Regions from separate parts of the Homo sapiens genome. Here all the other regions are linked to region 3. The links come from fine-mapping of genetic effects on gene expression. A gene starts in region 3. Each other region holds a variant in brackets. All regions are shown on one strand. Distances are from middle to middle. Region 1 has its middle 39 kb from the start of ARHGAP6. Region 2 has its middle 25 kb from the start of MSL3. Region 3 holds the start of MSL3 (MSL complex subunit 3). Region 4 has its middle 37 kb from the start of MSL3-DT.

Region 1 (5,149 bases), 54 kb before region 3:
AACCCTACAACAAGCTTGCAAACTTCACATGTAAGTATAGTCTGTATAGCAAGGAAACTCTGGCCAGAGATGACATTTGATCCCACAGCTCATCAGGTCTATGTACGATATTTCACACACCACCCAATAGATGTAATGACAAGATAATATTAACAACAACCACTTTCCTGGATCACTCCCCTCCCCGCAACACACCACTCCAATACAACGGCCACACATTGCATTAATACCCCAAACCTATTCTCAATTTGTTAAATATGGTGCAAGCTCACAGTTAGGAGGATGCAAATCTAGTTGAGCCAAAGAGTCCCTGGAGCTCTGGGAGCCTAGGTGGAGGGTCACCTCAGAGCTTTCCAGTACCCGCAGCTGTGGCTCAGGCAGCTGTGGCTCAGGCAGCTGCAGCCAGGAACTAGTGAGGTGGGACAGCCAATGAGGGAGGTAGAAGTCAGCTGGCCCAGCTTGGGGAGGTGTATCTCTCAGCATCTCAGCTTTGGGACTCTGCCACCACCTCTTCCTAGCCCAAGCTGCTGCCTAAACCAGGCATGTTGAAGGGTGAACAGTGGCTGCCACAAGGCCAAGGCCAAGGCCAAGAGATTGCTGACACTCTCACTCCCTTGCCTGAGCCCCTAGGCCTGTGACAAGCCACACTGTCCTCCAGAACCCATCTAGCTCTAGGCAAAATGTCTTAGGCTTCTGACTGAGGAGTCCACCAGGGCATGAGTAACAAAAGCCAGGATCTGGGCTTTCTAGAGGGCAGGGCCTCTTTCTTTCTAGTCCCCCAGCTTCTTCCTCTGCTTGAAGGTGACTGTTGCAAACAGACAGGTTGTTGCCCATAAGTTCTCAGCCAGTCTCCGGTAATTAGGTTTGAAAACATGAGGTAGAAGCTTCCCCTCACATTGATGTTGTCCCTGGGCTGGCTAGAGTCACCCTCTGGCAGGTGAACAGAAGCCAGCCCTTTTCTTGACTCCTGGCCAGTTGTGCCACACACCAAAACTCTTCAAAACCTACTCCCTCGACCTCTGCTCCAGGAAGGGCAGGACCCAGAGTGGAAGTGGGGAGCACCACTGTCTTTTCACACCCTTTGAGTTTCTTCTGGCCACCATTCTTTCCTTCATCCACACTCCCACTTGCCCTCCTGCACCCAGCTGGACTATAGACTTCAGAGTTCACAGGCAGGTTCACCCTGGGATCCTGCCTAGCAAGTCCAGGTCACGCTGATTATTGTAAGAGATTACACTAATCAGCGTGACCTAGAAGCTCCTGGGTGGATCCGAGTAACAGATTTCCTCCTGGCCCAAAGGCCGGGCTTTTTTTTTTGTCTTCTTCACAGCTTTCAGGTGAGTGCTGGATTTGCAGACAGTAACCAGGCCCTCAAACCTGTGGAGATACATTTTCCTGGTGCTGCATCCATTCGTCTCCTGGGGAGATAGAAGAGATGGCTTGTTCTGCTTCTTTTTTGTTTGCGTTTTGAGACGGAGTTTTGCTCTTGTTGCCCAGACTGGAGTACAATGGCACGATCTCGGCTCACTGCAACCTCCACCTCCCGGGTTCAAGCAATTCTCCTGCTTCAGCCTCCTGAGTAGCTGGGATTACAGGCATGTGCCGCCACACCCAGCTATTTTTTTGTATTTCTAGTAGAGATGGGGTTTCTCCATATTGGTCAGGGTGGTCCCCAACACCTGAACTCAGGTGATCCGCCTGCCTCGGCCTCCCAAAGTGATGGCTTACAGGCGTGAGCCACCGCACCCTGCCGGCTTGTTCTGCTTCTAAACAAGCTGCCAATCCACGGGAAGCCCGAAAAACCCTGCTCACAGCAGGGATGGAGAACAGAGGAGCAATGCTGGCTGTGGAACACCCCCCTGCAGGGGGCTGGGCCAGGGCTAGTGGGGTGAGTCTTGGATCAGGCCGTACTGCATGCTCACAGTGTGGTCCAACTCCTCCAGCCCTACAGGCGGCGGGATGCCCAGCTCCCCCAGGTACAGAGAGTCCTCCAGTTTTGAGAATGCCAGTCTGCTCTCGGGCTCCAGTCTGCAGTAGATCATGGCCAGGGGGAAGAAGGTTGGAGGGCAGTCTGTGGGGACAGACTTCTCCCAGAAAAGCATCATGCTGAGGCCAAAGTCCAGTGTTTGGGGAAGGAAATCGGGATCTGCATACACCTGCCCAATGGTCTC[A/G]CAGAGAACGATCCCAAAAGAGAATACATCCACATTTCGTCATAGCTCTTTCCATTCAGCATCTCAGGTATCATCCAGTAGAGGTTTCCCACCACCATGTAGCACTTCTTGAAGTTGTTCTTGTGCAAAGTACATTTCTTGGTGGTGGCCATTCTGGAGGCAATGCCTTTGGCCAAGCTGACTTCCTGCTGCCAGGGGAATGGGTCCACACTTTGCAGAAGGTCCTTCAGCATGCCCCCCTCAATGTCCTCTCAGCAGGTTCAGCTTCTTGTCCTTGTACAGCACGCCAATGAACTTGAGCACATTGGGGTGGTCCAGGCTTCACGTCACTTTCACTTCAGTCAGAAAAGTCTTCTGGTTCTCCTCATCACATCGCATTAATTCCTTCATGACCAACACTTTGCCTGTGGCTTTGTGTGTCACTTTGATAGCCTGCCCAAAGAAGCCCTTCCCCAGGACCTCCCCGTGGATCAGGTCACAGGACCGGAAGTTCTGCTTTGAGTAAGTGCTGGAACAACAAAGGGATTCCCAGCAGCTGATGTCACGGCTGAGCAGCAGGGGCTCCTTTGGAGAGCTAGGGCTAGGGGACTTGGAGATGCTGTTACTGAGTCTTAGGGAGCATCTTCTCAGTGTCCCCTCCAGATTATCCTTGGTGTCCAGGGTGCTGAGGGCGTGAGGGTGTCCAGCATTCTGTGTGTGGGGAGAGAGCCAGGCATCCAGCCGCAGCTGGGCTGGGGACCGGGAGACAGGGTCATGTTCAATCAACAGCAGAAGTGTCTGGCTCATCTGGCTAATTGCATCCTCCAACTCCTCTACTTGGAGTGTGTGGGTGGGGGTTCCACTGATCTCCAGGATGTGGTCCCTGGGGTGGATGGCATTGCAGCTGTTGGGACTGATGTGCATCTGGTTGACCTCTTTTACTTGCACGGTGGTAACATAGTTGGAGCAGGCATTCTCCACGGACACGGAGAAGCTCCGCCTGCCCTCTGTGATGGCCAGCATGGACATGAGCATGACAGAGTAGGGCAGCTGGTCCTGAATGGACTCTGTGGAGAGTATCTCAAATATGGGTGCCAGCACCACCTCATTTGTGGCACTTTCCACAGTATAGGGTGACACGCAGCACCAGGGCGTATGCATCCCCATCCTCAATGGTCACCTTATAGCTCACACAGGCAAAGCATTCTGGATGGTACTTGAACTCCCTATTAGCAGCAGCAAATCTGCATGGGTCTGCAGCAACCTCAATTCTTCCTCCTCAGAAGAAAGAATTCGACTGAGGGGCATAAGAGAGAGTGAGAGACCAAGGCAAGTTTCAGAGCAGGAATGAAAGTTTATTAAAAAGCTTTAGAGCAGGAATGAAAGGAAGTAAAGCACACTTGGAAGAGGGCCAAGCAGGAGACTTCAGAGATCAAGTGTGCAGTTTGACCTTTGACTTGGGGTTTTACATGTTGGCATTCTTCTGGGGTCTGCATCTTGTCTCCCCTGATTCGTCCCTTGGGGTGGGCTGTCCGCATGCGCAGTGGGCTGCTAACACTTGGGAGGGGCTGCATGCACAGTGTGTTTACTGAAGTTGTGCACATGCTCACTTGAGGTGCTTTATGTGGTCCCCACAGCCCTGACACCTCCAGGCATCTTCACCTTGGTCCTGGCATTACCACTAGTTGAGTGACCTGGACAACTTCATTTTCTTCCCTAAGCCCCAGTTTCTTCATATGTAAAATGAGGAGATTGTACATTATCTCAAAAGTCTCTCCTGGCTCTAGCACCCACCAGTGCAGACATGGTCCCAGGAGCATAGAAACGGGGAGGAGGAAGCAGGGCCGCAGCAGCACCAATAAGCTCCCACCTCTGCCTAGGCGAGGGAGGACCTCAACCCCAGGCACGAATGGGCGGATTTTTAAATCTATGATTAATCTAGGATTCCTTTGAGTAAGACTTCAAAAAATAACTTTAATATTAGAAAAGGGTTTTGATTGTTTTCCTAATAAATGTGAAAGGAAAACATTAGATCATTTTTCATGGTTTGAGCTTTAATCTGATATTTAATTATGTTTCTGCTTTGCTACAATCAATGAAAGTATGTTGCTTTTGTTTTTGAAATCTTGACATCAACCCAGGATAAATGAATAAAATTTCAAAAAATTAATTTGCTAACACAAAAGGCTTTAGTTATTTTACTTTTAAACGTAAAGTTACAGAATAGCCACCATTACATAATTCGAGCTTTAATAAACTCTAATAAGAAACATATCCTTGTTTAAAATATTAGAACATAATGGCTCTATGCACATTGATTTTCTTCTTTTCTATAACTGCTATGCATTTTGATTCAAAATTAGTTTTTACAGGATTTCTTTTATAAATTATTATCTTGGAGCCTATAAGTAACAAATTTCTTTTCTCTGATCATTCCATAAGCCAAAATATTTCAAACCAGATGTACATGTGAGTTGTGTGTGTATTCTTTATCCACTGACATTTCAAAATTCTATTTAATTATATCTTCATATTTTAAAAATCAGATGATTCAGGGGACTGATTCGATAAGTTGTCTTACTTCCACTAGTGGAATACCATGCAACTGCAAATCCAAGGACTAAGAAGTTCTCTTAAGTTCCAATGTGGGAAGATGTCCAGGTAATATTGTTGAGTGAAAAATCCAAGGCACTGAACAATGTGTGTGTATATTTATATATATAGAACACCACCTTTTGTAAAGAAAAGGTGGAAAATAAGAATAAATATTCATAGGAGTAAAACTTCTTGAGGAATAATGTTTCGTGTATTTTGCCTTTTGAACCAAGTAAATCAAAGAACTATTCAAAAATAACAATAAGGGGGGGAGGAGCCAAGATGGCCGAATAGGAACAGCTCCGGTCTACAGCTCCCAGCGTGAGCGACGCAGAAGACGGTGATTTCTGCATTTCCATCTGAGGTACCGGGTTCATCTCACTAGGGAGTGCCAGACAGTGGGC
Region 2 (5,149 bases), 25 kb after region 3:
GGCTAAGGTCACCGGGGAAGATAGTATGGACTGAGTAGAACATGGGATTTCTTCTTTCCTTCTTTCCTTCCCTCCTTCCTTCCTTCTTCCTTCCTTCCTTCCTTCCCTCCTTCCTTCCTTCCCCTCTGTCTCTCTCTCTCTTTCTTTCTGACAGTCTTGCTCTGTCACCCAGGCTGGAGAGCCGTGGCGTGACACTGCAGCCATCATCTCCCCAGCTCAAGTGATCCTCCCACCTCAGCCTCCTGAGTAGCTGGGACTACACCTGTGCACCACAACATCAGGCTAATTTCTTTTTAAAATTTTTTGTGGAGATGAGGGCTTGCTATGTTGTCCAGGTTGGCCTCGAACTGAGTTCAAGTGATTTTCCTGCCTCAGCTTCCCGAGTAGCTGGTATTACAGGCCTGCCACCATGCCTGGCTAATTTTTGTATTTTAGTAGAGATGGGGGTTTCACCATGTTGGCCAGGCTGGTCTCGAACTCCTGACCTCAAGTGATCCGCCTGCCTTGGCCTCCCAACATGCTGAGATTACAGGTGTGAGCCACCGTGCTAGGCCAGAACATGGGATTTCTTATCAGCAACCCCAGATGCAAAAGACAGGGCTGACAAATATCTTTAAAGTGCTGATTACAAACAACTTTGGACTTAGACTTTATTCCCCAAAAAACCAAGTCAAGAGCCAGAGTCTCTTCCAGCACTTTGGGCTCTCAGGGACCCTTCAGTGTGTTCCTGGCCACCTTTCCAAGCACTAGCTTCAAAACACGCCAGTCACAACAGCCTTCAAACTCTGGTGGCCTCTCAAGTGTGGTGTATTCAACACCATGGACCCCAATGGGACAGAAGAAAGCACACCCAGGTGCAGGTGGCCCTTAACACTAGGTCTTGAGGGCTGAGTTTCTATATCATGTCTGGGCTTGCTGCTGTATAACTCTGTGGCAGATTCTTTACTTGGCTTGCGGCAAGGAGACCTGTCCACAGCAAAAAGCATGAAAAAGACAAAAAAGCTATGTACTCATATGGGAGTCTAAATGTGGCAGGGAGTAAGAATTAATTCTCTCTGCTGTGCCCTCCTCCAGTTTCCAAAGCCTTTTGGTTGACCAAGCAGGGCCCAAAGGCTGCTGGCCTGGACAGCCACCTCATGGGCTTGCTCATGTGTTGAAATGCAGGAGATCATTTCCAGCTGGTTTTTGGGAGGAGGGGCTTTTGGGGAGGCCAGTGCAGAAGAGAGGGAGGAGGAGGATGGAGAGGAGGAGCTGTCTGCTGCCATGAAGGGCTCGAGTCCCTAGCAATAGAAGCCTGAGGGCCTAAAACCAAGCAATTGTTTCCTAAGGGACTTCCTGCACCTCTGGGCAAAGGCAGAAGGCCAGATGCTGGGGAGACCTCACAAGAGTACTTGTAGACTTGAACAGAGCTGTCTGGGGCCCAGATGACAGAGGGGACACAAGCTTCACACTTCTCTGACTCCATGAGAACTAAAGCTTGGGGCCATCTGGAGGTAGCCCAAGGTGCATGCAGCACTGATACTCTCGCCACGGCCCTATCATCATGTGGAGGGAGGCAAGTCTCTTTCAGGGAGCTTTCAAATCAGCTCTTCACTATCCTCCTACTTACTCCCTTTCTGCTCCCTCACCTCCTCCTCCTCTTCCAAGGATCTCCTAAGGCAGTTAGGGAGGAAGAACTTGGCAGACTGCATGGTGACCACAGCTAGCCAACTGGTTTGTGATGACTCCCAGATAAACAGAGGGACCTGTTTTAAGGGTTTGGTTCCTGTTAGGGCAGGTTTGTAGGAAGATAAGCGTCTTTTTCACTTATGCTCAGATTACAACACTTTCAACACTTTGGAGTCCATATTAATTTTCTACTGCTGCTGTAACAGATAATCACAAATTTAGTGACTTGAGACAACACACATTTATTAGCATACAGTTCTGGGCATCAGAAATATAATACAGGTCTCATTAGGTGAAGATCAAAGTGTCAGAGGGCTGTGTTTCTTCTGGAGGCCCTAGGGGAGACTATGTTTCCTTGCCATTTCAAGCTTCTCGAGGCTTCCTGCATTCCTTGGCTAGTAGCTTCTTTCTCCATCTTCAAAGCCAGCAAGTTTTGGCTGAGTCCTTCTCACGCTGCCATTTCTTTGATTCTCTGACCACAGCCAGGAAAGCATCTCTGCTGATGAAGACTCCTATGATTAAATTGGGCCCATGCAGATAATGTCCTCATCTCTAGGTCCTTAGTCTTAATCACATCTGCAAAGTTCTTTTTGCCATGTGAGGTAACATATTCACAGATCCTGGGGATTTGGATGTGG[G/A]TGTTTTTGGTGGCTGTTATTCTGCCTATCACAGAGTCCTGGCCTGTGAGGCCAGGAAACATTTGCATTACTCAGATGTTCCAACAATCCATGGTGTTGGCTTTGGAGCAGAGGTAGAATGACCGTGGAGCTGGTGAAGCTGAAACTTCAGGGCTCCTCATTTGCTTGTGTGCACCTATTCCAAGCCCTCAGTTTTGTAGGCATAATTGTGTGCTTTATTTCTCAAAGAGGGCCACCACGATTACAGAAACTTGAGGCCCCACAAAACCTGAAGGGGGTCCTGTTCTGGAATGTGTGTGTGATGAGACAAATGGAGTGCCCCCAGGAGGCCCTTGGGGGGCAAGGTGTGGTGTGGTCTCGCCCACGATGAGCCCGTGCTTCTGGCTGTTAAGTGAGATACCAAAAGGAAGAGTTTGGAGAAGCATCTGGGGAGGAGGTTAAGCTGTGGCTCAAGGGGGTGGCAGAGATTTCTGAGGAGGAAAGGAAAAGAAAAGTAAAGAAGGATTTGTTTCAGAAAAAAGAGAAGTATTGAAAACGGGGCAGGGGCATTTTTGCTGGGTGATGTGCTTTGTGAGCCTGCCCTTCATTGCTGCTCAAATGTCAGACATTCGCTTAATGCTTGAGGAGCTGGATTTGTGCTTTTGAGCTTCTGTGGAAATGGGTTGCCAGGCTGAAACAGGCCTCCAGGCAGGCAGAGAAAGAGCAAGGACACTCTGAGAGTCAGGAACATCAGGTTCATGTGCTCTTTCATTCATCAAAAAGGATCCCAGAGAAGCCAGAAACAAGGGCCTCATATTGTATGATTCCACTTACATGAAATGTTCAGAATAGGCAAATCCATGGGGCTAGAAAGTAGATTAGTGGTTGTCAGAGGATAGGGAGAGGAGGGAATTGAGACTAACTGCTAATAGATATGAGCTTTTTTTGGGGGGTGATGGATATTTTTGGAATCAGTAGTGATCATTATACCACTCTGAATATACTAAAAACCACCGAATTGTCAGCATTTAAAGGGTAAATTTTATGGTATGTGAATGATATGGTTTGGATTTGTGTCCTTGCCTAATCTCATGTTGAACTGTAATCCCCAATGTTGGAGGCGGGGCCTGATGGGAGGTAATTGGATCATGGGGGTCATCCTTCATGAATGGTTTAGAACCACTCTCCTGGTGCTGATCTTGTGATAGTGAGTGAGTTATCGTAAGATCTGGTTGTTTAAAAGTGTGTAGCACCTCCCACCTCTCTCTCTTGCTCCTGCTCCTACCATGTAAGAAGCCTGCTCCCCCTTTGCCTTCTGCCATGATTGAAAGCTTCCTGAGGCCTCTCCAGAAACAGAAGGTGTTATGCTTCCTGTACAGACTACAGAACCATGAGCCAAATAAACTTCTTTTCTTTATAAATTACAGTTTCAGGTATTTCTTTATAGCAATGTGAGAATAGATTAAAACAGGGAATTATATCTCACTTTTTAGAAAGGGGTCTCTAAAAATTGGCTGTGCCTAAAACTCAAGGAAAATACACTATGAAAACCCATTTTTGAGAGCTGAAAGGCTACTTATTCCAATACTCCAGTGAGGCTTCTTTCAAGCATCACTGCTTAAAACAGGCCAAGGTTCCTCTTGTCATTCCTCTGAGTTCATACCTCCTCTGAAGGTCAGAAAACCTGTGCCTTTATACAGCTTCCTTTGTAAGCAAATATGGGGTTGACAGATCTTCAAACTTTTTGGCTTTCTGATTCTCCTGCTTAGCAAGATAGGGCATAAGGAATAAGTATATACTGATACTGTGATATAAGCAAAAAAGGTTAATTCACAGAGGTTAGTGACAGCAAGAATAAAATGAATTGTTAAGACTAAAGCAAACCAGAGCCAGTTAATCTTTACAAGTCTTCCATGTTTTGGAATTTCTTTGCAACATCAATCTTCATCCTTCCAGAGGATCATGAAAATCATAGGTAGTAAAGTGCTTGACTATGTTTTTCTATTGATTTGTACTTTTCCCACTTAGATTTACAACTCTCAGTGGGATGATTTAATAAGCCATTTTGGAGATATGGCTTGGCACAAGGTAAATTACACCAGCCTGCAGGCTCTATTTACTGCTCAATCTTCACTATTGTAAAGGTGACTTTTGAGACAATTTCAGGTCACCAGCCTCTATTAGTCGTCCATTAGTATCCAGAAAATAATTTTGGGTGAGATGATTTGTGAGCTGCATAGAAACACACCTATTAGTGTCAGAGGATAAAGGCTGTTTAAACGTGCTTGGGCAGTATACAAAACAAAGTCTGAAAACCGAAAACACTCTATTGGAGGGAAAACCTAGTAAGATTTTCTTCTGATATATGATATTTCATCTTGTCTTTTATATTCTGTAGCATGTGAAATATAACCAATCAGGGACTCTTAGTTAATTTGGTGGTCCACAAGAAGCCATGGTGTGATAGATGGATTTAAAAATGTTTCTAAATCTTTACACACCTAACACCACCACCACCACTACTCCCTTTCCTAACCTGTGAAATGTGAGTTTGAAGTTCCTCTAATAAAGAAGTGGGGTCTATTTTCTTTGCTCTTGAAAAGGGCAAAGAAAAGTCTGGTCTTATAACTTGCTTTAGCCAAGGCAATATGGCAGAAGTCACTCCCTTCCATTCTTTCCCTTGGAAACTTGCTGAGATGTGAACAAATCCCAGTTAACCTGCAGACGATAAGAGCCACATGGCCTGTTATTCTTATTACCACTGCCAACAATCAGCCGACTGGCCAACATGTGAAAAAAAAAAATCTTAGACTGGCCAACCCCCAGCCTACCTGCCAGCTCTCAACAGATGCATATACAAGCCA
Region 3 (5,149 bases):
CTATTCCACACCAGCTTTATCAGGGTATGCACATAAAGCTTGAACTTGATTGCTTGCTGCTCCGCCCTCCTGAAATGTGCCCTCTGGGAGGACAGGGGTAATGTATGTATTCTACTTTGTGTGTCTAGCAACCAGCACACAGGAGGTCCAATAAATATTTGCTGAATGAATGAATGAATGAATGGGGGACACGGAGAAACAGATAAGAAATGCCTAATGTCAAGAGCAAATATTTACCCAGCCCTTATATGTCAGGCACTACACAAAGCCATGTACACTGAATTGACTCATTGACTCCTAAAAAACCCTATGAAGTAGGAGCCACTATTTCCTTCATTTTAAACATGAACAAAGTGCATTACAAAGAGACTAACCAGTTGTCCATGGTCACAAGCTAGAAAGTGACAAGCATGGGACTGGGTCCTGGAGAGTGGTTTGCAGAGCTGGCCATGTTCTTAACCTTTACACCCGAGAGGAAAAATGATGTCCTGCATTAAGGGTGGAGCCCTCTCTAGTGGATCCTAATCTGGAGGAGGACTGTAAGGGGTGCTGCCATTGGCAGGCTTTTTAACTTTTAGGTTCCTGAAGGCTTTTGCATTCTTGGACTTTTTAGAGGGACGGGGAAAGAGGAATTCCTCAATGACATAAGAAGGGGTGGAAATGCGGAGAAACAAAGGAAAGCATCTAAAATCCTATCCCTGAAAGGGTAGAGCCTGCAGCAGAACTCTCTCCAATCATGGGCAGGAAAAATAAAAAGGTGAATACTTCAGTTACGGTTTACACAGGACGTGCAATTACATGTGCTTCCAAGCCGCCCCTGCCATTTGTGGGGAACACCACCATCTACTGTTCTCATCTCTGATACACCACAACCTGGAGAGGAATCATGGTTCCAGTTCTAGTTTCTGCACCGTATTACCCCAAAGGCCATTTGACCATCTTCCCCCAACCTTTAACTCCTCTGTATAGCCTTATTCTGGCGGATGCAGCTATTACTCACCCAATTCCTTGGGCCAGAAAACCTGGAAGTCTCTCAAGATTCCTCCTTCCCTCTCCTTCACATCCAATTGGCCACTGAGTTTTGTGGGTTCTATTTCCTAAATCAATCTGTTCATTCATTCCATATTATGTGCCACGAATACGCCGTGATGAATTGGATAAGACCCCTACCCCCAGCTTCAAAGAGCTTACTGTCTTAATGAGGTCATTTTGCAAATGAACAACCCATTCTATAGCACAGTGGTACATGCAAGAAAGGGGTTAAGCAGAGTCCTGGGAGGGAACACCTCAGGGCTTTATGATTCATCTTGGGAAGCCTGAGGGCTTTTCTGTTGGCATGCCCACGCTGAAATGTGAAGGATGTATACCAGGAACCTGGTGAAGGAAGCGTGCAGAGGGGAAGCAAATGCAACTTTCTGGAGGCTAGAACAGAGAAGGGGAAGTTCACCAGGTCCGCAGAGATTAGCCTGGAAGCTGGTCTCCAGCCCGGTCCTAATCCAGTAATTACACTGCCCAACGGCTTTCCAAAACTCAAAAGAAAAAGCCCAGCACTGTCCTTCCTGTCCCTGGAAGTTTGTCCTTCAAGTCTCCCATCACTTGTCATTCGCTCATCAAGTATTTACTTAACATCCACTCTGTGCAGGTACCATATTGATAGCGGCCTCAAGGGTGCTTCTATTTAGGGAATTTTTAGTCTATTGGAGCAGATAGACCGTGGGGGGCATTCCGGGGATGCTGGGGGCTGTCAGGCCACGCTAGAAGCTGACACTGAAGACGTCAGCTACTCTTTAAGGACCCATCTGCCTCGCTGCCCACTGCTCAACCCGTCACTGGGGGCTCCAGGCCTGCCACCGGCTTGTCCTCTGAAGGGATAAGCAAGTGTTCTATTCACAGCCCGGAGTGCCCTTCTGCCCTCGCCCGAGGCCACTGCCCGCCTGGGGCCAGCTCCAGCGCTGCGTTCTCCAAGCGTGGCCACACTCATCGGCGCGCTGCTCTGCCAAGGGGGCTGACGCGGCGCGCACGGCCAGGGAGCTCTTGGGGGCAGACGCCGTCCAGCCTCCCGGCCGCCGGGTGCCTACTCCAGACCGGCTCTCTCTCTCCCTAGGCGCCTCCCACGCCCGGGCCGGAGAGCGGGCGCTCGGGGCGACGGACGACCCTGCGCGCACGTGGGCGCAGCCTGGAGGCCGCGGGGACCCTCTCCCATGGGGGCGACGGGAGACGTCCTGCCGGTAGACCTTGGCCAGGGGGTCGCGCTCCCCGCCCGCACCCCTCCCGGAGCCCCGGCGGGGACGTGCGGGGACGCGCCCGGGCGGGAGCGCGCGCGCCAGGCGCCTCCGAGGTCCCGGCAGCGGCTCGGGGCGGGCGGAGGAGGGGCCGAGGGCGGGGCGGCCGCAGCCTCCGCCATTCCCGGCCCCCCCCGGCCACGGCGCACCGCCTCCCCGCCCCCGCCCGCCCTCCCCCACCGCGCGCGCTCCGCCCGCCCCGGAGCCTCGCCCTCCGCCACGATGAGCAAATGAGCGCGAGCGAGGGCATGAAATTTAAATTCCACTCAGGGGAGAAAGTGCTGTGCTTCGAGCCTGACCCCACCAAGGCGCGAGTGCTGTACGATGCCAAGGTGCCGCCGCGGAGGGACAGGGAGGAGGCGCGGGCTGGGGGACCCGGGACCGGGGGCGGGGGCGGGGGCGGACGGCCGCGCGGAGCTGAGGGACCGGCCGGGCTCCTCGGCCTGCGAGGAGCGGTGCGGCCGGCAGGGGGCGCTCACAGGGCGCTACGCCCGGGAGTCGGGGCGGGGTCTGGGATGCTTCCACTTCCTTCCGTCAGGCCGGGCGGCGCACGCGCGGTTGGGAGCCTCGCCCATGCTTTGTCGCGTTACCGGGGCTACCGTTTGCGCCCCCGACTGCAACGGTGGCCGCTGAGGGAGGAGGCTTCTCGAATACGGTTTCTGTCTTCGCGTTAAATGTCTCCTTCTGTGCGGCCTGGTGCCGGGTGGGCTCCTGTGGGACGCCCTGGCCGTCCGATCCAGGTTCTAATTCATAGTTACACGGCGCTGGCCGCTGACTTGCGACGTTGTGTCCCTGGGACCCTAGTCCAGTTTAGGCCCCATCCCGCCTGTAGGCCGTGAACCCCATCCCGAGGGCAAGGTTGGCCCAGTGTTTTCGTACCCCAGGGCCTTGCAGCATTTACGTTTTCAAACTCTGAAGGATTTACGTGGGTCTGACCATAGTTGATGGGAATCGCGCCCCGGGCCGGTCCACCTAAGTCTCCGGGAGCTGAGCCACATCTTGCAGCTCCTCAGATTTGGGTGGCGGGCAGGAGTTGGCACCAGGTCTCCCAGATCCCCAAGGAAAGCACCCAGGTGCTTTCATTTCAGAGACCTGGGTTCCTAGGGCCACCTGGGCGAAGCCTTAGGCGGCAGGGACAGGGGCAGTCCCAGGTGTGTCTTTGGCGATGTCTGGACAGCTCTGTCCATTAGAGATGCTAAAGGACATCCCTAAAGGGATGAGCATATTCTGCCTTCAGTTCCCTCCCCTGCTGCTCCTGTCTTTTAACCGCGTCTGCTATCCCTCTTTCTCCTCGCCCTCCAGCCTCCTCGGGGCGGAGGGGGGGGGGCACGCCCCATCATTAGTTTTAGTTGTTCCCTCTAGGGACACAACAGGGAGGGATTCCAGAGTCTCCAGCTAGCCATCCTGGCACTGGACATAGGGGAGCCCAGGAGACTACAACTCCCAGAGCTCTCAGGGCTGCAGCTTTCATCTAGCCTGGAGTCTCTCCTTAGTGACAAATCGGCTGGCCAATGGCTTCAGAAGCCTCACACTGTCTCACGCTCAGAGACCAATCACGGGGTGGTTGGACGGATGTTTCCTATTTTGAAGGCGTCCACTTGGGGGAAAAAAATGAAAGGAAAAATATTTCAACCCGGCTGTCGGTCTAAAAGAGGAGAGAATGCTTTCTTTAAAAAAGGGTCTGTGAATTAGTTTTCCTGATCTAACTTCTAATTTTCTGTATGTTCTGCCATTTGTGGGAAATATTTCTTCGTTTCAGATTGTTGATGTTATTGTTGGGAAAGACGAAAAAGGCAGAAAGATCCCAGAATATCTGATCCATTTTAATGGTTGGAACAGAAGGTGAGTGAACTTGTTAAACCAGACTGAAAATTGATTGTCTTTGCTGCATAGAAACATTGCAGACTTAAGTTTCAGAAACACTTGTAGAGAAGTTTGTTTCATTTCCTGCTTTTACTTTGTAGCATTGCAAACTTCTTTAAGTTTTTGAAACACTTGTAGAGAAGTTTGTTTCATTTCCTGTCTTTACTTTGTAGCGTTGCAAACTTCTTTAAGTTTTAGAAACACTTGTAGAGAAGTTTGATTCATTTCCTGTTTTTACTTTGTTACCAGAACTTGCCTATTGTGACGAATAGTTACTTTTAAGTCGATTGTATTTGGATTCTGTCTGGGTGATTCTGGAAACCCCAGTTGTTTCTGTGTCTGAATGAGTTACTTTTTCAGTTTATTTGCCTCCTCTTTGTGATTTTAAAATATTTAAATCGTTTTCTAAAAATGTAATTCTGGGGCATTTCTATTGCTTTGAGGTACTTTTAGTCGTTGTTTCATATCAAACTAAAGTACTGAATTTTCCTTTTTTGTTCAATTAGCTGGGATAGATGGGCAGCAGAAGATCATGTGCTTCGTGATACCGATGAAAATCGTAGATTACAGCGTAAATTGGCAAGAAAAGCTGTAGCTCGCCTGTAAGAATACAAAAATCAAGATATAAATGTTATCCAATGTGTTTTCTCTTAGTGTTTTAGATTTTTATGATATAAAAGTAATACAATGACAAATATCATTTATTAAATAATTTTAAATATTTAAAGTGTGTAAGGGGAAGAGTGTTCCTATGGTATTCTAAATAACAGTGTTTTCAGAGTGGTTATTGTATAATTTTCTGAAATGGAAATTACCATTTATGTTCTAAAGTTTAATAATTTTTCAAATGTATTTCATTGTTTATTATATCTTGTTTTGATCTCAAGACTCACGAGTTCAATGTCAAAACTTATTTCAGTTGTTTGCTACTCTTTTTCAGGAGGAGCACAGGAAGAAAGAAGAAGCGCTGCAGGTTGCCTGGTGTGGACTCTGTCTTAAAAGGC
Region 4 (5,149 bases), 37 kb before region 3:
CTCCTTATTTGTGTAGTATAAAGACCATGGGTTACGGCATTATCAATAGCAATAGAAAATTAAGCAAAAAATTAGTTTTTCAAAAGGAAGTTACTAATATAACTGATATATCTGTACTACGTAAGGACTTTTTACTTCGTAGGAAATATGGTATATAATATCTGTCTATCCCTATAGCTTGTCCAAAGTTAGGATGATATAATATGTTTTTGCTTTCCTTCACGATTAGTTTAAAATCATATTGGAATTTAAAGGAGGATTTAGCAGAATATCAACTTCTGTGAGAAAATGATGAAAGGAAAAACAATTGGGTCTTTTGAATGAAACAGGTTGCTGCGGGTGGCTATAACAAGTAAACCACTTAAGTTCAATGGCTAAATTAAACAAGACAGGAGCTTAATTCTCACTTCCATAAAAAAACAATTTGAATATTTTCGGTCACTGGGCAGGCAGTTATCCTCCATGGAGTTCTGCTATCCCCTAATGCCTCAAGTCCTCTGCCTCAGGAAAAGAGAATAGAAAAGGTACCAGTGTCTTTGAAGACTTAAACTGAACTGACAAACCTCAACTCTATCCACACATCAGTGGTGAGAACTAGTCATGTGGTTACAACTGGAAGCAAAGGCAGCTGGAAAAGGTAATGCTGGGTGGGGCAGCTGCCTCACCATGACCACAGCACATGATCGAAAGGGCAGACAATTATCAGTGGACAGATGGCATCCTGCATCTTGCCATCATGAATGAACCTTTATAACTCAAAATAATTTGAAAAAAAGAAACTTAGCCATTGTTATGGATTGGATTTTGTCCCGCAACAAAATATGTTGAATTGCTAAGCTGCAGTACCTCAGAATGTGACCTTATTTGGAAACAGGGTGGTTGCAGATGTCACTAGTTAAGATGAAGTCGACTGGAGTAGGAAGGGCTCTTAATCCAATATGACTGATGTCCCTATAAAAAAGGGAGAGACACAGTGAGAAGAGAGCCATGTGATGACAGAGGCAGAGATTGGAGTGATGCCCTACAAGCCAAGGAATGCCAAGGACTGCCAGCAACACCAGAGGCTGAAAGAGTCAAGGAAGGGGTCTCCCCTAGGTGCTTCGGAAGGAGCATGGCCCTGCCAACACCTTCATCTCAGACTTCTGGCCTCTAAAACTGTGAGACAATAAATATCTGTTGCTTTAAAGCCACCCAGTCTGTAGTGTCTTGTTACAGCTGCGCTTAGAAACCAATACAGCAATCCAGTACCAACATGGAGGACAAAACCGTCACACCAACACTTCCCAGGCCCTGTGTCCTGCCTACCTTTGACTCTTACATATCTCTACTTTATATTTGCCAAAGGAAGCCTGGCTGATGGTGGGGCAATGGGGAGTGGGGCTGGTTGGACAAATACAGCCCTTTAGTCATGACTCCATCAGCCTCATTCAAACTCTCTCAGAGAGACAGTTACCTCTCAGTGTATGTGTCTTTCTCCATCCTCTGTTTCTTGAACTCCTCAAAAATGGCCCTCTGGATTTAGCCTCTTGGGGTTCTAAGAAGGCCTTTGGAAAAGGAGGAGTTATTATAAGAAGCAATAAACAATATTGGGGCAGAAATGTTCTTCTGTCTAGGCCCCCAGGCTGCTTTTAGGACACTTCCCTCTCGTCTTCCATGGCTCCTCTGACATCTCCCTCATGGACATCTCTGCTTCCTTCCGTGTGTTCCATGATTCCCCATGTTCTGACTGGCTAATGCACACTGTATTCTTCTATCCAGATTCCACTGGGAGCTAGTCTCACCAGCCTAGTGAGTTTCCACCACCGCATTGGGCAAAGCCTTTACACCAGGCCACCTCAGGGGTCTCCCCAAGCTATGGAAACTCCACTCTTTGTTCTTGGGCCACCCTACCCCCACCCAGGTGGCTACCTCATGCTAAGAACAGGCTGTCACAGATTCTCCTTCAAGGCACTGTGGATGGGGTGTGGCCCAATAGGAGGGAACTTTGCACTTTCCAGGTTAGTATGTCTGACAAGTCCAGCACAGACCCAACGTATGTTCTAGTAGTCTTTCCTCTATCTTAA[T/C]TGCTTATTCTTGATAGATGTCATTTTATCTTTTGAGGTGGCATGGTTGCTCAACATGAGCATAGACACAAAGGCCGGGTGTGGTGGCTCACATCTGTAATCCCAGGGAGGATTTTGGGAGGCCGAGTTGGGTGGATCACCTGAGGTCAGGAGTTCCAGACCAGCCTGGCTAACGTTGCAAAACCTCATCTCTGCTAAAAATACAAAAATTAGCTGGGCATGGTGGCACGTGCCTGTAGTCCCAGCTACTTGGAAGGCTGAGGCAGGAGAATTACTCGAAACCGGGAGGCGCAGTAAGCTGACATCATGCCACTGCAGTCCAGCCTGGGGGATAGAGTGAGACCCTGTTTCAAACAAACAAACAAAAAAGACACGAAAGCAGAGCCTGGAGCATCCATGGTCTAGTTCAGAGGCTATGCCATGGGAATAATAATGGCTCATACTAATAGCTAACTCTTACAGAGGACTTTTTAAGAGGCAGACAGACAGTCTTCTAGATGCTTCACATAAGTTAACTCATTTAACACTCACAACAACCCTCTGGGGTGGACACCATTAATATGTCCCATTTTATGCCTAAGGAAACTGAGGCACAGAGATTCCAAGGAACTTGCCACATGTGTGTATTAACAAATAAATAAGAAGGTATAGGTTTAAAAAAAAGAAATTCCTTGAAAAACAAAGACATTTGAACTGAATTTGGTGAGACAGAGAGACACTGAGGTTTTTGAGACCAGAATGATTCAGCAGGAGCGAGATGGATTAGTGGCCCCTGAAACTAGGGGTAGTGGCTGATCCAAAAAGCTCCTGCAGAGATCCACATCCAGGGGAGAGGCTCTGAACTGGAGTGGTGGCAAAGGCAGTTGAAACAAGAAGCAGGTACTTTGGGAGGCCGAGGCGGGCAGATCACGAGGTCAGGAGATCGAGACCATCCTGGCTAACACGGTGAAACCCCGTCTCTACTAAAAATACAAAAAAATTTAGCCAGGCGTGGTGGCAGGCACCTGTAGTCCCAGCTACTCGGGAGGCTGAGGCAGGAGAATGGCATGAACCCAGGAGGTGGAGCTTGCAGTGAGCCGAGATCGCGCCACTGCACTCCAGCCTAGGCGACAGAGCAAGACTCCATCTCAAAAAAAAAAAAAAAAAAAGAAGAAGAAGCAGGTAGACAAAATTGCAACATCTTGTAGGACTTCCTGAGTAATGACAAGAGCTGTAACCATCAGGGTTCAATGAGGGAAAGAAAACTGCTAGGAGAGTGCGATGGATTGAATTGTTACCCCCCAAATTCGTATGTTGAAGCCCCAACCCCCAATGCGATGGTATTTGGATGTGGGATCTTTGGGAGGTGAGTAGGTTTAAATGAGGTCATGAGGGTGTGCGCCTCATGATAGGATGATTGTCCTTATAAGAAGGGGCACCAGAGAACTTGCACTCTCTGCCCTCTACCACGTGTGGACACAGTGAGAAGGTGGCTGTCCGAAAGCCAGGAAGAGGGCCCTCACCAGAACCTGACCCTGCTGGCACCCTGATCTTGGATTTCCAGCCTCCAGAACTGTGAGAAATAAATTTCTGTTGTTTAAGCTACCCAATTTGAGGTATCTTGCTATGGCAGCAGAAGTAGACAAAGAGAGAGGAATGGATAACGGATGCATTTATAGTGGATAAGGCTGATGCAATTGTGGGAGTTGGTGAAGCAATTTACAAAGATGAGGAATCTGAAAGGAAAGCTTGACACCGTTCATGACACTGATGCCCATCGCAACAGAGCCAGCTGTCTGCACACCTGGCCCAGGCCTTGGGGAAGCTGAGGGGGACATCAGAAGGAGCTGGCGGAGCTGTGGTGCAGGTGCTGGCCTCATGTCAGCAGATCTCATGTCAGCAGATCAGTGACAATGTGCAGAAGCCCTGCTCAAACCTTCAGAGTGTACAATATATGACTTCTGCTTCAATTCCAATTTCCAAGTTGCACACAAAATGTCCTGGGTGGCCAATATTGCCTGGAATCAAATGGCAAAGGGGATGCTGTGAAACCTAGGCTTAGCTGAGTTAAGTTAATACAGCACAAAGCCAGCAAGATAGTGGATGAGAAAAAGCAGACAAGTAAAGAGGACCCCAAGTTTTTGTGCATGCTTGACTAGAAAAATGGTGATGATTCTAGGAGATGTTGGAAGACGATGGTGAGCTTAGTTCTGCTGTAGTCTTTGGCATGTATGTAGAAACATCTAGCAGGCAACTGAAGACTTAAAGAGAGGACAAGACTGGAAATAAAGACATAGGAGTTTTTAACCAAGTGAGGTTTTGTACACTTCTCCATTCTCTATGCTGCTGAAGGAAATGATGCAGAAAGTGCATGGAGCCATCAAAAATTGGATTTTGTTCCTTTTAAGAGAAAATTTTATTCTTCATTTGATTCTTTCATTTAATGAAAGAATCACTTATTGAGCAACCACTTATTGAGCACATGTATAAGTTCGTCATAGTGGTTCTAAGATAGAAAATCTAGGGTCCTGCAAACAAAAATCACCTAAAAATGCCTCAGACCAGGCTGTTATAGGGTTTGTCCATGTTGTGGAAGCTGCTTTGAAGATTACGCTTGGAAAAGAAAGGAGAAGGCACTTAAGAGAATCAGTATGTGTGAGATATAGAAGTTTTTGCACTTACCCTTCACTTTATAAAGAGAGGTTAGTTTTCAGAATGGATGTACTGCTTTATTATTTACTTATTTATTTTTTTATTTTTGTAGAGATGGGAATTTGCCATGTTGCCCAGCCTGGTCTCGAACCCCTGGGCACAAGAGATCTGCCCCCCTCGGCCTCCCAAAGTGCTGGGACTACAGGTGTGACTGCCAGATGATGTAATGCTTTAAATCAGTGAATTAAGACAAGGGCTCCACAAGAAGATCATAAAAGAAAAAAGACCACTAGGACATGTCTTCCCTGACTTCCTCTTCTTAAAGAGCTACAGAAACTTCAACATTCAGGCTACCAGGTCAGCCTCGCCCACCTCACCTAAGCGGACCTAAGTCTGGCATCAGGTGGGTCTAGCATGGCTCTTGCTGCCTCTACACTTGGACCTCTTCACACGGA

Evidence for each region. PIP is the estimated chance that this variant, and not a neighbour inherited with it, causes the effect. A credible set is the group of variants that fine-mapping cannot tell apart.
Region 1: its variant is the best candidate, but not a certain one, in a credible set for the expression of MSL3 in whole blood (TOPMed, PIP 0.86).
Region 2: its variant is the best candidate, but not a certain one, in a credible set for the expression of MSL3 in blood mononuclear cells (TOPMed, PIP 0.72).
Region 4: its variant is the best candidate, but not a certain one, in a credible set for the expression of MSL3 in whole blood (TOPMed, PIP 0.56).

What each region holds. Positions count from the first base shown.
Region 1 is chrX:11,702,237-11,707,385 of GRCh38, forward strand. It overlaps the pseudogene LIMK2P1. Among named protein-coding and RNA genes, the nearest start is that of ARHGAP6, 39 kb to the left of the region's middle. RefSeq lists enhancers at 1,899-2,398, 2,415-2,916. The variant A/G (reference allele first, on the strand shown) is at 2,172.
Region 2 is chrX:11,780,445-11,785,593 of GRCh38, forward strand. No RefSeq gene overlaps it. Among named protein-coding and RNA genes, the nearest start is that of MSL3, 25 kb to the left of the region's middle. The variant G/A (reference allele first, on the strand shown) is at 2,307.
Region 3 is chrX:11,755,752-11,760,900 of GRCh38, forward strand. It overlaps MSL3 (MSL complex subunit 3), which reads left to right and starts at 2,486. Exons shown (of 13, transcript NM_078629.4): 1 at 2,486-2,614; 2 at 4,042-4,124; 3 at 4,652-4,747; 4 at 5,086-5,149. The coding sequence starts at 2,513. MSL3-DT (MSL3 divergent transcript) reads right to left here and starts at 2,332. Exons shown (of 2, transcript XR_007068393.1): 1 at 1,001-2,332. RefSeq lists silencers at 2,026-2,225, 2,246-2,395, 2,406-2,785 and an enhancer at 2,639-2,933.
Region 4 is chrX:11,718,776-11,723,924 of GRCh38, forward strand. No RefSeq gene overlaps it. Among named protein-coding and RNA genes, the nearest start is that of MSL3-DT, 37 kb to the right of the region's middle. The variant T/C (reference allele first, on the strand shown) is at 2,064.